Linked DNA regions of Homo sapiens: region 2 is linked to region 1. The links come from fine-mapping of genetic effects on gene expression. A gene starts in region 1. The other region holds a variant in brackets. All regions are shown on one strand. Distances are from middle to middle.

Evidence for each region. PIP is the estimated chance that this variant, and not a neighbour inherited with it, causes the effect. A credible set is the group of variants that fine-mapping cannot tell apart.
Region 2: its variant is the best candidate, but not a certain one, in a credible set for the expression of CLTB in whole blood (INTERVAL, PIP 0.85).

What each region holds. Positions count from the first base shown.
Region 1 is chr5:176,411,473-176,420,372 of GRCh38, forward strand. CLTB (clathrin light chain B) reads right to left here and starts at 5,067. Exons shown (of 6, transcript NM_007097.5): 1 at 4,705-5,067. The coding sequence starts at 4,891. It also overlaps a transcript of ARL10 not described here. RefSeq lists silencers at 4,570-4,649, 4,760-4,859, 4,900-5,359.
Region 2 is chr5:176,155,996-176,164,738 of GRCh38, forward strand. It overlaps the pseudogene CEP192P1. Among named protein-coding and RNA genes, the nearest start is that of SIMC1, 78 kb to the right of the region's middle. RefSeq lists a silencer at 5,091-5,331. The variant A/G (reference allele first, on the strand shown) is at 3,601.

The DNA.
Region 1 (8,900 bases):
ATGCTGCCTAATTAAAGGCCTCCCTGACCACACCCCCATCCACCCCTTGGGCACCCCTTCCTATTCCTCCTGCAGTATTAAGCGCACTTACTACAGCCTGCTGTGTTTATTTGTGTATGTGTTTATTATCTGTCTTCCCCCAACAAACAGACCCTCCATGAGGGTGTGGACTTGGTTTCATCCATGATGAGGCCCACCTACAACAGTCCCTGGAACATAACAAGGACTCAATAAATATTTGCCAGATAAGTACATCTAACCCTGGAACATGAGGATCTCTACAATCTGGCCCTGCCCATTCCTGACTCACTTCCCACCAGCCCATCCCACAAACCCTAAATTCTGGTTTCCTCCTTCTCCAAACACACCACCCTCATCCCCATGCTTTCTTCCTGCTTCCCTCTCTAAAGAATGCTTTTTTGGGCCGGGCGTGGTGGCTTATGCCTGTAATCCCAGCACTTTGGGAGGCTGAGGTGGGCAGATCACGAAGTCAGGAGATCGAGACCATCCTGGCTAACACGGTGAAACCCCGTCTCTACTAAAAATACAAAAAATTAGCCAGGCGTGGTGGCAGGCGCCTGTAGTCCCAGCCACTCGGGAGGCTGAGGCAGGAGAATGGTGTGAACCCGGGAGGCGGAGCTTGCAGTGAGCCGAGATCCCGCCACTGCACTCCAGCCTGGGCGACAGAGTGAGACTCATCTCAAAAAAAAAAAAAAAAAAAGAATGCTTTTTTGGCTCCATTTATTCTCCAAGGTCCAGCTCATAAGTCACCTCCTCTGGGAAGCCCTCCTCTGCTTCCTTTACTTCCCTAGGCACTTACGGAAGGTCTCACTTCCGGGGTATCCCAGGATATCATACAGTATCCTGCACCCTCTTGTGCAATTACTCATGACCCCCAGGGTCCGTGTGTACCCCCTTACCAGGCTCCGTGTCCTATTCAGCTCCTCAGGGCTCCAGCACGGAATGGGTGAGCAGTAACTATTGGCTAAATGGAAGTTGAATTGTTGTTTTGAGGCCTGCTGTTATCTGCAAGGCTCTCAGAAACTGCTGTGCCTCCTAGCAAAAAGCCATGGAGGCCACATGAGGTTAATAGGCAGATGGACAAATAGCCCTTCACCAGCCAGACAGGGCTGTGAGCAGCGACAGTGTGTTTGGCCTGGGGACTCAAGGGAAGGGTACTTAATCCCATGGAAATAATCCCCGGGTGACATAAATCATAATTGACTTTGCTTTCAGAGTCAACCAGTGATTGATTCCAACCAACTCTGTCAGCTGTCACTCCCATTCCTTCAGATAAGGCTTCTCCTGCATGGGTGTCCTGGCCCCTAAATCACAGTGGGACCAATAGCATTTCAGTGGCAGCATCTTCTGCAAAGGGGCTTCTTCTGCTGGGGTGTCTCCTCTAGCAGGGCCTCACGTTACCAGGGTCTATTCCCTGTGATGCCGGTCTGTACATTTGGCCTTCTCGAGAATTTGCACCACCCTACTCCGCCCTGACCAACCCCAGTCTCAGACCCCACATCTACACACAGCTGCCTGGGGTCTACCCTGACCTTCAGAAAGTCTCTCTGCCTCAGCCTCGAGAGTGTTCCTCTGGACATGCAGTTTCGGCCTCCTTAAGAGTCCACACACACCTACACAGCATTCCAAGTACCTGTTCCCACAGTGCTCTCCACCCACCCACTGCCCATCTACCACCGGGAGTCCACACTCACAGGCCAGCAGAACAGGACTGAGACAGAGACACGTCCCAGGGATAAACCCCTGAGGGTTTGCTTCCCTCAGCTGCCTGACCCATTTTGGAACAAGGGCAGAGAGGGTCCAGAACATTCCTGTGAGCTTACGAGGCCCAGCGGGGGAAATGGGCTTGCCCAGAACTGACAGGCAAGTCAGAGCCAGGCCTGGTGCTCAGAAAACTGGGTGTGAAAATGGAAACCTACCCAAGGCTGATGAATGGAAACAAAGTGTCCATCATCCAGATCACCCAGGGCCACAGATCCAGCCAGAGAGGAGGGGCTCCCTGTGGCTCCAGCACAGGCCTACACCAGATACCTCTTTCCCCAGGGGCAACTGAGCCCAGTGTCAGCACAGAGATTGCTAATCTGAGGACCCCAACATCTAAGAGAAGGTGCCTCAGAGGTACTGACTGGCGGCCGCTGCTAAGCCAGCTTTTGCCCAGCTCTCAGCAGGCCAGGGCGCTTTTTCTCTGCCCCATCCAGGCTCCTGGCACACATCCCTGGTCAGGGGAAGATTACCTGTTCAGCACTGCATAGGCTGAGAAGGTCAGATCAATTCTAGCCCATCTGGCCATCCACTGAGCCGCCATCCCTCAACACCTCCCTGCTCCCCGATCCAACTAAGGAGGGCAGCTGAGCCTTTGCAGAGTCAGCAGGTATGCGCCTGGGAGACCCTCAGAAGGCTGTATCCCCGGCACCTCCCTGGAAGAAGCGAGCGTGTCATTGTTTCTCTCCCTGTCACCTCTGGTCTGAGGCCAATTTGTGCCCCACCCCTGCCAAGGACAGAACTTGCCATCCAGACTGTAAGTCCCTGGAGCCCCACCATCCTGGGAGAGGCCACAACCTGCTCAGCTCCCTCAGGCATCTGGCTGCCCTCAGCCTGAATCCCATCTTTTCTCTCCTGAGGTTCTCACAATGGCTCCCCTCAGCAGGACCTCCCCACAAGGCCTCCCTCCTCTTCCCTGCACCCCGACCCCAACAGGCCCCAGTGAGCCAGACTGAGGAAAAGGGTGGTCTCACAGAGGTGTGGTCCAGTGAATACTGGTGCATTAACTGGGGCAGGCATTTCTTAGGAATTCCCTGGGACACGGCAGATTCTGTATTGAGGTGCTGGAAGCTTCCACTTCAGAAGCCCTCCATTGCTGTCTCAGATAGGTGGCAAAAGACCCCATGCTTCTCACCCCACATCCTATCTCCTGCCAGGGAGGTGACTGCTATAGAATCTTTTTTTTTTTTTTTTTGAGACAGGGTCTCACTCTGCTGCCCAGGCTGGAGTACAGAGACGTGATCACAGCACACGGCGACCTACCTACACCTCCCGGGCTCAAGCTATGCTCCTGCCTCAGCCTTCCCGAGCAGCTGGAACTACAACTACAGCTACATGCCACCATGCCTGGCTAATTTTTGTATGTTTTGTAGAGATGGGGTTTCACCATGTTGCCCAGGCTCCACAGCATTTGAAAGAGCATGGAGCCCAGAGTTGGGAGGCGTGGGATCAAGTCCTAGATTGGTCATTCCTGGCTGTGTGACTCTGGGCAAGATACTCAGATTCTCTGGGCCACCGGTTTCTTGCATGTTACAAAAGCCTGGTTACATTTCTCATATCAAGGAGATACAGAGTTGCTTCAAACTCCTCAGCCACAGGAACTGTCTTATTCATTTCTGTATCCCCAGCGTCCTGACACACAGTAGGTGCTCAGTAAACGTTGAATGGATACAAACATGACTGTGAAGAGCCTTGTAAACATCATTAACCAAAATATGTCTATATGTATATATGTTAGCACTTACTACAACAGGCCCATAAACCTTTCCAAAATGACATCAACAGGAAGTAAAACCTGTTTTGGATGTACCCATGAAGGTGATATCTACTTTTTTACTAAATATTTTACAAAATCATTCTTGCTAGCCAGAACCAGGGCAGAAACATCATTGATAAAGATGATTTCACAGGGACTAGGCCCTGAACACTGAGGTCTGAAGCCAATCACAGTAAATCATAATAGCCCCGGACCACCTTTGGAAAACCATTAAGTCGACAACTACAAAACCCTGAAGGGCCCTACCGCATCTGACTGATGCCTCTTTGTGGCCCACACTCCGGTGTCTAACTCAGAGCCAGACACTTGGTAGGCAGTGTGGTCAGGTGGAGAGGGCTTCAAGTCCGACAGGAACAGGTTTAAATTCACGGCCAGGTGTGGTGACTCACACCTGTAATCCCAACACTTTAGGAGGCAGAGGTGGGAGGATTGCTTGAGCCCAGGAGCTCAAGACCAGTCTGGGCAACATAGCGAGACCCCATCTCAAAAAAAGGAAAAGAAAAAATATATATGTAAAAGAAAAAGAAACAGGTTTAAATTCTTGATCTGCCACTTACTAGTTATTTCAATAGCATACTCCCTTGAGCCTCAGTTTTACCATCTCTGAAATGGGTTCAATCACGTGTATGAAGTGATTAAATGTAACCAAGGCGCTTAGCCCAGCGACTGCCGAATGCCAGGCGGTCACCGGGGAAGGTTAGTGAGTTCCTGGAGCACCCAGGATCCTCTTTTTTCCCAGCTGCAGGAGAGAGCTAAGCCTGAGGGGCCAGGAGGGCTGTGTTCTGCCCACACCTGCACACTTAGCTGGGAGCCTGGGACACCCAGGCTATTAGGAGGCTCAGGAGGGACTCTCAAAACTGAGGTGGGGTTGGATTCCAGAGCCGGGCAGTGGGGAAGCTGGCCTGGGGATGAAATGTCATGACCGAATTCCTGTCCCGGGAGTCACCAGATCCACAGCCCCAGGCGAGGCCTCATCCCCAGCTCGGAAGTCCTACATGGAGATCTCCAAGAAGATTCTTCCCCACGTCTCCCAGCTCCTGCCCCGGGTGGCCTAGAGCAGGCTCTCTTCCCTGTGCCCCTGGGCCCCGGCCGGGGTCCCCCGGGTGCGCGCCCTGAGCCCCTCTCCAGGCCCCGCGCTGACTCACCCCCACTCGTGGGGCCCGGCTGCGCGGGGGCCGCATGGCTGCCGGCAGGTGCCCCGAAGCCCTCGTCGTTCTCTATGCCTGCAATCTCGCTCTCCTGCTGGGCCAGGAAGGCGGCCGCCGGGTCCTCCTCCGCCGCCTCCGGGGCACCGCTCTCCGACGACGAGAAGAAGCCAAAGTCATCAGCCATTTTCCCCGCGCCTCCGCCGGAGCCTCCGCTGCGCTCGGCTCTGCCCGCGCCTGCCCCGCGCTGCGTCCGGCGGCCGCGACGCTGTCACCCGAGCCGCGGGGGAGCCGGCGTCGGCGGGGACGGGCTTGGCGCGGACCGCACTTCCTCTCCGCCACCGGGCCCGGCTGGCTGTCACTGCGGTGCGGGCGCCGCGGCGGGAGGAGCGGAGCCGGAATGCGGTGACGTCACCGCGGGGGCGGGGCCGCAGGGCCGGGAGGTCGCCGAGCAGCGGCCGCAGGAGGGCGCCTCAGGACTGGGCGCAGCGCTGGGCCCGGGACCGGCGCGGCGCTTCCCTCCCTCCGCAGCGGCGCCCAGCTGCTCGCGTCGAGGACACCTGGGCTAGGCACTGCTCCCGCCCGGCCTGGAGGCGAAACGCAGGGCACAGAGTGGCCGTACCGTGCACAGAGCTGCGACAGGAGGCCACCTCTGGCCTCGGGAGCGCAGACCTGGCTCCTGATTCATTCTGCAGAAGTTTCTTCTCCTAGGTTGGGATGTCATGCACCTCATTCTATGAGCCTCCGCCTCTGTAAGAAGAGGAAAATTGAGGCTGGGAAAGGCTGCCCCGCACCTTTTCATGCAAGTCCAGGTCCTTTCCCACTAGGCCGTGTTGTTTTGTGTATTTTTTTGTGTATCTCCCTTGAGGAGGCTTCAGTTCATACGACCAGAGTTTGGATGGCCAGCTAGGCCCCTTAAATGTCCTTTAGGTATGAACCAGCCTGAGAAAGGCAGACCTGGTTTACCCAGGCAGCCTACCACTCTCCACGCTGCCCGCTGCCCTCTGTGAACAGGCTCTGAATGCCTCCTCCCTGCCTGCGCTTTGCCAAGCACCAGGACAGCAACGTTTTATAAAATCCAGCCATGGCCATGCGGAGATTACAATCCGGTGAGACCAACAGATGGCAAATGGCCTGTCAAAGCACTGTGTGTGAGGCGCTGTGACATTTAAACACGGGGTATAGGGAGACGATGCAAAGAAACACCATGGGATTTGGGCTGTCTGCTATTTCTAATGTGGGACTTGAAAGGCAACTATGAAATATGGACTGGAAGAGCGAAAGGAAAGATGTGCCGCCAAGTTGGGGGTGGAAGTGGAGTTGGGGTGAAGGGACCTTCCAGGTGTTTTTTTTTTTTTCTTTTTAATTTTTTTATTTAGAGACAGGGCCTCGCTATATTAACTGGGCTGGTCTTGAACTGCTGGCCTCAGGGGATCCTCCTGCCTTGGTCTCCCAAAACACTGGGATTACATGTGTGAGCTACCAAGCCCAGCTGGAACTTTCAGTTTAATTGGTAACAACTTGAGCACCTTTTGATGTTACTGTTTTTGGGGGGGTTTTTATTGTTTTATTTAATTAAATTAATGTATTTATTTATTGCTGTCCATTTGCATGGTTTTGTTGTTGTTGTTTGTTTGTTTTTTGTTTTGAGACAGGATCTTACTCTTGCCCAGGCTAGAGTGTAGTGGTACGATTATAGTTCACTACAGCTTCAACTCCTGGGCTCAAGTGATCCTCTCATCCTCAGACTTCCAAAGAGCTGGGATTACAGGCATGAGCCAACACACCTGGCCTTTTTGATGTTATTGTAAGTGGAAGTTTTATCTTCTTTTTTGATTGCGTATTGTTAATGCATAGAAATTTAACTGATTTTTGTGCATTGGCTTTGTATCCTGCTGCTTTGCTGAATTCATTTATTAGCTCTAACATTTTTTGTGTGTGGAATATTTAGGGTTTTCTGCAGATAAGAGCTTATTAGCCAGGTGCCATGGCTCATACCTGTAATCCCAGCACTTTGGGAGGTGGAAGTGGGTGGATAGATTGAGCCCAGGAGTTTGAGACCAGTCTGGACAACGTGGCAAAACCCCATCACTACTAAAACTACAAAAAATTAGCCAGACATGGTGGTATGGTGCCCGTAGTCCCAGTTACTCAGGAGGCCGAGGTGAGGGAATCACCTGAGCCCGGGAAGTCAAGGTTGCAGTGAGCTATGATTGTGTCAGAGGTGTGTGAATCAGAGCAAGTCCGTCGTAAACAGGATCTGGGTAAAATGAGGCTGAAACCTACTGGGCTGCATTCCCAGACGGTTAGGGCATTCTAAATCACAGGATGAGATAGGAGGTCAGCACAAAATACAAGTCATAAAGACCTTGCTGATAACACAGTTTGCAGTGTTGGGCAAGGTGGCCCACGCCTGTAATCCCAGCACTTTGGGAGGCCAAGGTGGGCGGATTGTGAGGTCAGGAGTTTGCGACCAGCCTGGTCAATATAGTGAAACCCCGTCTCTACTAAAAATACAAAAAATTAGCTGGGCATGGTGGCAGGTGCCTGTAATCCCAGCTACTTGGGAGGCTGAGGCAGGAGAATTGCTTGAACCCGGGAGGCGGAGGTTACAGTGAGCCGAGATCTCACCACTGCACTCCAGCCTGGGTGACAGTGCAAGACTCAGTCTCAAAAAACAAACAAACCAACAAACAACAACAACAAAAACCAGGTTGCAGTAAAGGAGCCAGCCAAAACCCACCAAAACCAAAATGGTGACAAGAGTGACCTCTGGTCATCCTCACTCCCACCAGTGCCAGGACAGTTTACAAATGCCATGGCAACATCAGGAAGTTACCCTATACGGTCTAAAAAGGGAAGGCACGAATAATCCACCCCTTGTTTAGCATTTCATCAAGAAATGGCCATGAAAATATGCAACCAGCAGTCCTTGGGGCTGCTCTGTCTATGGAGTAGCCATTCTTCTATTCCTTTACTTTCTTTTTCTTTTTTTGAGGTGGAGTCTCGCTCTGTTGCCCAGGCTGGAGTGCAGTGGTGCGATCTCGGCTCACTGCAAGCTCCACCTCCCGGGTTCACGCCATTCTCCTGCCTCAGCCTCCCAAGTAGCTGGGACTACAGGAGCCTGCCACCATGCTCAGCTAATTTTTTTTTTTTTTGTATTTTTAGTAGAGACGGGGTTTCACCCTGTTAGCCAGGATGGTCTCGATCTCTTGACTTCATGATCTGTCCACCTCGGCCTGCCAAAGTGCTGGGATTACAGGCGTGAGCCACCGTGCCCGGCCCCTCCTTTACTTTCTTAATAAACTTGTTTTCGCTTTGCACCAAGGACTCACCCTGAATTCTTTCTTGCGTGAGATCCAAGAACCCTCTCTTGGGGTCTGGATTGGGACCCCTGTCCTATAACAATCACACCACTGCGCTCCAGCCTGGGCAATGAGAGTGAGACCCTGTCTCTAAATAAATAAATAGCATCTGCAAACAGAGATACTTCTTACTTTCCAATCTGGGTTGCTTTTATTTCTTTTTCTTGCCTAATTTCTCTGGCTAGGACTTCCAGTACTATGTTGAATAGAAATACCAAAAGTGGGCATCCTTCTGCACAAGTTGTCCAAATCAAACTGGAGTCACTTATGCCAAACCCTAGCAAAATGGACTCAGGAGGCCATAAATGAGGGGCTCCCATGCACACATGCCTATGATAGAAAATATTACAAGGACTGTCTGAGGCTGGGCACGGTGGCTCATGCCTGTAATCCCAACACTTTGGGATGCTGAGATGGGCGGATCACCTGAGGTCTGGAGTTCAAGACCAACCTAACATGATGAAACCCCGTCTCTACTAAAAATACAAAATTAGCTGGGTGTGGTGGCACACACCTGTAATCCCAGCTACTCAGGAGGCTAAGGCAGAAGAATTGCTTGAACCTGGGAGGCAGAGGTTGCAGTGAGCCGAGATTGCCCCATTGTACTCCAGCCTGGGCAACAAGAGCAAAACTCCGTCTCAAGAAAAAAAAAAAAACCCAACAACAACAACAACAAAAAACAAGGATTGTCTGAAACCACAATCTTGCACAAAGGCCGTCACACCCATGCACGAAGAATATTTCTGCAATGACACCTGCCCAGCAATTGCCTGTTCAATCTTGGAATAATGCTACCCTTGTTATCAATCCTTGTAGCCAAGGATAATTTTT
Region 2 (8,743 bases), 260 kb before region 1:
AGCCGGCTCGCAGGGCCCCGCCCTTCCTCTGTCCCTGCTGCTGCCTGTGCTTGAAGAGCCAAAGATGTTAACTCTCATGTGGACCCGTCCCTTTCCTGTGTCTAAATGCATGTGGCTCTAATAACGCATGACTTATCGCGGTCATTCCACAGCACTGGACATTTGGGAGAGCCTAGTACTAGCGGTGGGTAGAATAATTTCTCCTATGGCCCCTTCTGAGCCTATTCACAATAAGGCTGGGCTTGGCAGGCCAAGGAGCACTGTGGCTCCTTCCAGTTATAGAGGAGCCCAGGCCCTGCGGTTGGTGGCACAGCATCTTCACAGGCTAAAGCTCAAAACGCCATGACCCGCCGTTCTGCAGACCTAAGACAGGTTGTACTTTCACTGTCAAGATTATGCTGATCAGCAGCCTAACTGCTTCCTTTCATGCTCTTATCCCTTCAGGTTTCATTTATCTTTTTTGTCACTTTTCTTCCATCACTTCTATCACACTTCTTAGCCTTTACTCTAAAATGGGCTGCTGTTTATAATGACTCATTTACCAGAACATTTCTTTTGCTCAGGACAGAATTTTTAAGGTGGACAAGCAAAGCCTAAAGTCCCTTCCAGCCCTGCAATACTATGGGGTCTACACAGAAGTAGAAGACTGCTCTTCTCACTCATTGGCTTTGCTTCAACAAATGGTTCGGCTTCTGCCGTGATGAAGACCAGCTCACTCAAACCTTGGTTCCTATGAAAGTAACTGAAGAGCTTCCAGAATACAATGATAGTCCCAAAGGGATCTGATGTGGCTGAGTAGGGCAACCTCAGAAACACCATCAGAAACAATGAAAACCATACAACAAATGTGCTCATCATATACTTACAACCAGATCTCAAGTCTTCAGTCATCTCATCACATTTTGTTTGCTCGTAAAAGATGTGTGACAGGCAAGGTCCATGACCCCTCTGCCCTCTTCATTTCCATAGACCACATTCTGTGTGAGATTCATTTCTAAAAAACAGAATTCCAAAACTATCCATTGACACATGTAACAACTAAAATGATACGACATTCTCACATAATTGTTTTATCTAGATGACTGCCTTAATTACCAACAGCACTGAAATCTGCCCAAAATGTGTTGGAAAAAGAAAAATCCATTTCCCCAAATGAAAATATCTCTTTTATGGCAGACAAGCCAGCTGTGCTCATGAAAACAAGTCAATAATTGAGACTGAGAAATAAAGAAAAAAATGCTAAGACATAGAAAGGTACATTTCCACTAGAACTCTGATGAAAGGTACGATTTCTGAGCAATTCTCCCTATACTAGTATATTTGAAATTTTGTCTGAACTATAAAACACTTAAATATTCCAACCTAAAAGACTGACACAGCCCACATGAATATACACCCTATCCAAAATGTACAAATATCTGTTTCTCTTTTTTTATAGTTACAATGACAGTTTGTTATAAAGGATACAAATGAAGAGCCAGGTGAAGAGATACTCAGGGCAGCAAGGTCTGGAGGGGTCCAGGGTACAGAGCTTCTGTGCCCTCTCCAACTGGTCTGTCTGTCTAGCACATCAATAGATTCACCAACCAGGAAGCTCTCCAAGCCTTATTGCTGAGTTTTTATCTAGGTTTCATTTTATAGGTGTAATTGCTTAAATCATTGGCCATGTGACTGGGCTCAATTCTAGCCCCCTTCCTCTCCCCAGAGATTGGGAGGGTGAAAATTCCAACCCCCGAATTACATGATTGGTTTTTCTGGCAAACAGCCTTTATCCTGAAGCCATCCAGCCCATCTCCCCGCCCCACATCCATGAGCCATCTTGCTGGCATAAATTCAGGTATAGTCCAAAGGGGTTTGTATGAGTAATGAAAGACACTCTTATTCAGGAAATTCCTAGGGTTTGTGAAGCTCTGTGTCAGGAACTCGGGAGAAAACCTAAATGTACTTTTAAAGTTTATACCACAAGCTTGGAATTTGGGAGTGGTTAGCACCTATTGGAAGTGGTTGGAATCTATCTAAAAGCCTCAGTCAAAAGTGAGAGGAAGAATTTGATTTTAACATCCTATTACAGTATGAAAGTGCAACAGAACTACTGCAACATAAATGTTAGTTCAGATAGGACAAATACGGCCTTTCAATTTGGGCATGATTCGTTTTAGATGTTCTTGGATTTTTTCATCAAGTTAGGTGTAAGTGAAAGGACATGAAGCAAATCAAAGAACTTGTTGAAAAATTGCATCCCTGATAACTAGCGACATATTTTTCATGTTTGTTATAAATACCCTGTAGGTACTGCCTCCAGTGAACCAATTTAAATAAGATTCCCTGGGTATCGAAGCCGTGAGAACACGGGAATATATTGAGAAGGACATTTTCCTACTTTGAAAGGTTTGTACTTGGAATCTATGTGCTTGTATATCTTAAAAGAGGTTAGGAAAGGAATAACTTATCTGTTAATAGGAATACCTGAGTCCTCCGCAATTCTGGTGGGGAAAAAGGGAGTGAGCAGAGAACCACTTAATAAAAGTGGAAAAACTGTAATAGTGTTCCTCTGAGACACATTTTTACTAAAAGTATATTTTCTTTTTGTTTGAAAATCAGAATCAAAGGCATATTTAACTACAGTGAAAATAGCTGTTTTTAATCACTGAGTCTCTCAAATGTGACGTTACAAATTTAGATAACACAATAGTTTCTTCAAAGTAATATAAACCTAATTGTATTCACATGTTTACAGACAAGCAAAAGTGTTTTAGCATCTAGTGGCTCATTCAGGTGGAAGGCAGCTGTTCCTTAACTGCATCCTTTTAACCTTGATCAAAATGAAAACTTGTGTTTCTTTTATTCTGTTTTTTCAAGCCCACTTACTGTCTTTTTTCAACGGACTCATGATATTCACGTGTTCTCTTTTCAGGAGTCGGTGACCGAAAGGTATTAGTGAAATTAATTCTATGGTCACTAACAGGCTTCAGAGACATTGTGTCCACATTTTCTTGAAGGGACACTGAAGGAGTCTCAGTGTGTAAACATCCATCCACGTCCAAAACTGTCTCCGCATCTGATGCCACGTGCTTATGCTGGTGAGGAGACTGTGCCTCCTTGCACAGGGTCAGTCAGGTCAAAACCACCTTTGTGGGCATTTGCATCATGAAAATGAACAGAGCTGAGGGTCTTCACCGGAACATACTTTCTTGCATTTTCCTTTAAGAGAGAATCAGTAACAGAGCAATAGTAAGTTTTATGTTTCATAACTCATACTAAAATTTATGGGAAAATTATACAGTTGATATAAAAGTTGTATTATTTGAAGGAACAATATACACTCTTGACTGTATTCCAGACTACATGTGAACCAAACATAAGCAGCTGACCAAACCAAAAGCTATGATGTGGTCATGAAAAACACACACATCGACGGATTCAGATGCTGAAAGTGGCCTCAGGTTCCATTACATCAGGGCTCCCAACCCCTGGGCCCCAGATATCAACAGGTTCAGATACCAAAGTGGGTCTTGTGTATCCGTTTCATGAGAGAATGATAGAAATGTCAGCTTAACTTTTATCATGACCCACCAATGTCTCTACAAGGGTGGTCAGCCC[A/G]TTAGTGTGACCAACCTCCTAAAGTTAATACGAGTAACGGCCCCTGAAAACACAGATATTAGTGTCTCTTCGTAGGAGTAAAATAGTGGATACTACAAATGCCCCTGAGCAGTCCAATAAAATTTGTAGCAGACACAGCAAATTTAGCCAGTGCCTTAAAATTACGCTCTCCATCACATCTTTCCAAGTGGCACGTCTTAGTCTCTCCTAAAATTGTAACTGCTGAAAAGGGGCTCAGATGTCTTCAGTACTGCTTGTGGACATTTGGCTGTCACCGTGGTCTCAAGGACCAATAAAACCTATTAACAGCAGCCCCTTCTGCTGTAAGATGAGCAAGAAAGGGAACGACCTGATAAGGCTCAGCTTCCGGAAGTTACAACATTAAAATGCTAAATAAAGCATGCTGACGTAAAGATTGAGATGTGAAAGTATTAGAAGAAGATACAGATTAATTAGCTTATAGTCTTCAGTAGATAACATCTAAGTATAATACTCTAATGGTCTGAACTGTGTCCCTCCAAAAAGATACATTCAAGTCCTGAGCCTGGTAACTATAAATTGTCATATTATTATTCTAGAACAAGGTGTTTGCAGATGCAATTTACTTAAGAATCTTCAGATGAGGTCTTCCTGGATTTGGGGTGGATCTTAAGCACAATGACCAATGTCCTTATCAGAGAAAAGAAGGAAAATTTTCAGACAGAGACATCAAGGCCAAGTGAACAGAAAGACAAGAATGGAATGATGCTGCTACAAGCCAAGGAATGTCAGGAGCCACCAGAAGCTGAGACAGCCAGGGGGGATTTTCCTCTAGAGCCTTTGGAGGGAGCACCACCCTGTCAATATCTTGATTTCAAACTTTTGGCTTCCAGAAACCTGAGGGAATAAATTTCTGTTGTTTTAGGCCAGCATGACTGTGGTAATTTGTTCTGGCAAGCCTAGGAAACTGACATACATTAAAGGCTGAAATGCATAAAGATCAATATATTTCCATAACATAGAAACCTCACAAAACTGATAGTTAAGATATGAATACCCCAATAGAAAAAGGACAAAGATGACAAAGAAACACCATGTAAAACTAGACAACTACTTTTCATATACGACACTTGCAAAGATGAAAAAGAAGCACAATGTGAAAAACCAGCTGTCTCGCCCGCAAAGCAACTTGAAATAATCTTGAATGAAAAATGCAGTTGTAACTTCTAGCTTCCAGTTCTGCACATCAAGAGCTTGGAAGTCAACACTCCATCCCAACAACAAGTAAAAAGATGAACAAACTGACAAGTCAACAATTCTTCTGAGATCTCTGAGAGAAGTGAAGTCACGGCACAAACCACCGCCTCCAAAGCTGGAGAGAGAGATAGATGAATGCAGAGAATTATAACATATGGGAGCATAAACTCCCAAGCAGAGGCCCCCACAGTAGCCACAGCCAGCGTAGGAAAGCCGGAAATGCAATCGAGGAACTGCTGCACGCTCAGTGTGGAAAAGTCTGAGGCTTAAAAACTCCAGGCCGGGCGCGGTGGCTCACGCCTGTAATCCCAGCACTTTGGGAGGCCGAGGCGGGCAGATCACGAGGTCAGGAGATCGAGACCACCCTGGCTAATACGGTGAAACCCTGTCTCTACTAAAAAACACAAAACAAAACAAAACAAAACAAAACAAAAAACTCCAGGGGGCCCAGTCATAGGTGGGCCCCTATGCTTTTGTGAGTTTTATCTCCAGGAACATGACCAGGTTCTCACAGCAAATATTGGAGAAAAATCCCTCTGGACTTCCAGCAGGGAGGGGGAAAGGGGCCACTTTGAAATATGACATGGCACTTTGTTCTTAATTAGGTCAGTCCTCAGGAAAACTGACTAACCAGAGCCTAACCTGCTGGGGTTTTAGCTGAGCCTAACTAGCCTAGAGGAAGGGAAATACCCAACTCCATTTCCCTCTAGCCACCCTGTTCAACCTGAGAGGGAGAAAGACCGAGACACACTTGTGAAGTGCACAGTCCAAAGGCACAGGCTCACTGAAAGACTGGGACCACATCCCAGAACTGTGGAATGCTTCCCCTCTCCAACGTTTTACCGCAACATGTTGAAAGCTGTTCTTTTTACTTAATATATGGTGTCCAGCTAGCAAGAGAAAGTTACAATTTAGAAAAAGGTGAAAAACACAGTTATATTAAGCACATTATGCTTAGGAATTAGAAATCTTTTGTTACTATGAGGTACTCAAACTACTGTGGAAGCAGGATAATGTCATTTGAAAGTGAGCATGGATTAATTATTGATGTATGTTGCAAATACTAGAGCAACCACTAAAAAAGTGGAAACAAAGAATTATGTCTCATATGCTAAAAAAGAGAAAATGGAATCATATAAAATGCTGAACTAAAACCATGTAAAGCTAAAACCCCTCAAAAACGCATTTAGTTCATCTTCTTAGATCCATGAAATATATATATTATATAGATAACCTTAAACATTTAAATTAGTTAGATTTTCCAAACCAAATTCTGATTATTTGCCTATAACATTAGAAATGAAAAGATAACAAGAAGTGACATTAGGAAAGATGGCAAAGTAGAAAGTGCCAGAAATGTGTGTCTCCACCTAGTCAACAACCATAGTGTACTGAAAAAAGACTCTCTGGAGTAACTGTTAGAACTCTGAGGTCTCTTTGAACACTTCCAGCTACCAGGGAAAAAGCTTAGCTGGTAAAGTGCAGTTAATGTGGACCAACTTCAGGCTTCAGCATAACAGTGGCTACCCAGCCCCAGGCTCACGGCCAACAAGTGTAGAGAAAGTAATCTGTGTTTCTAGGGCAGATGGCTGGAGCCACATTTGGCAATAGAACCTTGCCTCCGCTTTATCAGGGTTCTATGTCCTGACTGCAAATTGCTGCTTCTGATTGCCCGGGATAGGTACACAGAAGCTGCCCATCACTGTTTCAAACCCACTGGCTGAAGCAGCCTTTAGGAGACTTAAAGGAGCTGCATTTCTTTTCTTTCTTTTTTCTTTTTCTTTTTTTTTTTTTTGGTATTCAAAAATCAAACAGCATGTAAAAAAAAAGTATTCACCATAACCAGGATACACCATTCCTGGGCTGTATCCCAGGAATGACAATGTGGTTCAACATAAGAAAGCCAATAAATGTAATAAATCACATTAATAAAACTATATGATCACCTTAAACAATGCAAAAAAAAAAAGGCATTTGACAAAATCCAACACCTTTTTATAATAGAAACTCTCAGAAAACTAGAAATAGAAGGGAAATTCCTCAACATGATAAAGGGTATTTGTTTTAATCTACAGCTAACATCATACTGAATGATAAAGATGGAAAGTTATCCCTATAAGATTAGGAACAAGAAATGATGCCTGCTTAAATTGCTGCTACTGAATAGTGTACTGGAAATCACAGACAGCGATTAGAAGGAAAAGAAATAAAAGGCATGCAAATTGGAAAGAGTTGTAAAAGTATCTCTCTCTGCAGATTACATCATCCTATATGCATAAAATCCCAAAGAATCCACAAGAGAGCTACTGGAGCTAGTAAATAAATTCAACATTGAAGGGCACAAGATCGATACACAGAAATCAGGCGTTTCTAAACACCAATAATAAACAATCTAAAATATAAATTAAGAAAGTGATTCCATTTATAATAGCATCTAAAAAAATTAAGTACTTCGGAATAAGTTTAGTCAAGGAAGCAAAAGACATGCTGAAAACTACAAAACACTGTTAAAAGAAAGAAAACCTAAACAAATGGAAAGGCATCCATCCTGTGTGTTGATGAAGGCTTAATCCTTTACAACGTTGAATTTCACAACTTCGTGGATATGACAACAAAAGCACAGGGAGCAAAAGAAAACATAGATAATAACACTATATCGTAATTAAAAATTTTCGCACATGAAAGACTAATATCAAGAAAGTGAAAGACAACCTACAGAATGAAATATTTATAAATCATATATCTGTTAAGGAATTAATATCCAGATGACATAAAGAACTCTACAATTCAACAACAAAAAGCCAAACAACTCAATTAAAAACTGAGCAAAGGACTTAAATGAACAGCTCCCCAAGGAAGTCATACAAATGGCCAATAATTACATGAAAAGATGCTCAACATCACTAGTCATCAGGGAAATGCAAATCCAAACCACAGTGATGTACCACCACCTCACACCTATTGGGATAACGATAATAAAAAGAAGGGGGTAAAAGTGTCATTTAGGATGTGGAGAAGTTGGAACCCTGCCGTTTTGCTGGTGGATGGAAACTGGTGCAGCTGCTGGAGAAAACAGCGTGGCAGTTCCTCAAAACATTAAGCATAGAGCTACCACAGGACCCAGCAATTTCACCTCTGCATATATATTTAAATAAACTGAAAGCAGGGACTTGCACAGGTATTTGTACACCAATATTCACAGCAGCATTATACTCAAAAGCCAGAAGACTCAAAACATCCAACTGCCCATTGACAGATGAAGAGAGAAAAAAAGTCATATATACAATGGAATATTATTCAACCATAAAAAATGACATTTTGACATATGCTACAACATGAGTAGACCTTGAAGACATCGTGCTAAATGAAATAAGCCAGAATAGGAAAGCCAAATGTTGTATGATTCCCCTCACATGAGGTTACCCAGAGTAGGCAAATTTATCAAGACAGAAAGTGAGAAAGAAATTTGCTTAGTATGGTAGCTTGTATTTCTAAGTTCTGTAGAGGTCATACAATAAGGAAGGCAGGCTACTTATTAAATCAAGGACACAATATGGTTCTCTCAGTTAACACAAACTGCATGGCCTCAAATTAGGGGAATCATCATCACTTTATAAAGTAATGTATTTTAAGGCTGACCTACAGGTAGAGATTTTTATGCCACCCAAGCAATCAAGCTTTGATGTGGATGTTCATTCCACATTCTGCCCTGATCCTCAGCTGCCAGAGGTGAGGCTGCACTGGCCTCCACACTACCTGCCTCCCTTCACGGCTTCAGGATCAGAGAGCTGGGAGGCTCCTACATACGCGGACATCTTATGGATTTAACACTTTCTTTTTTTGTTGTTTGTTTGTTTGGCTTTTTCTTTTTTTTTTCTAAAGACAGGGTATTGCTCTGGAGTGCTGT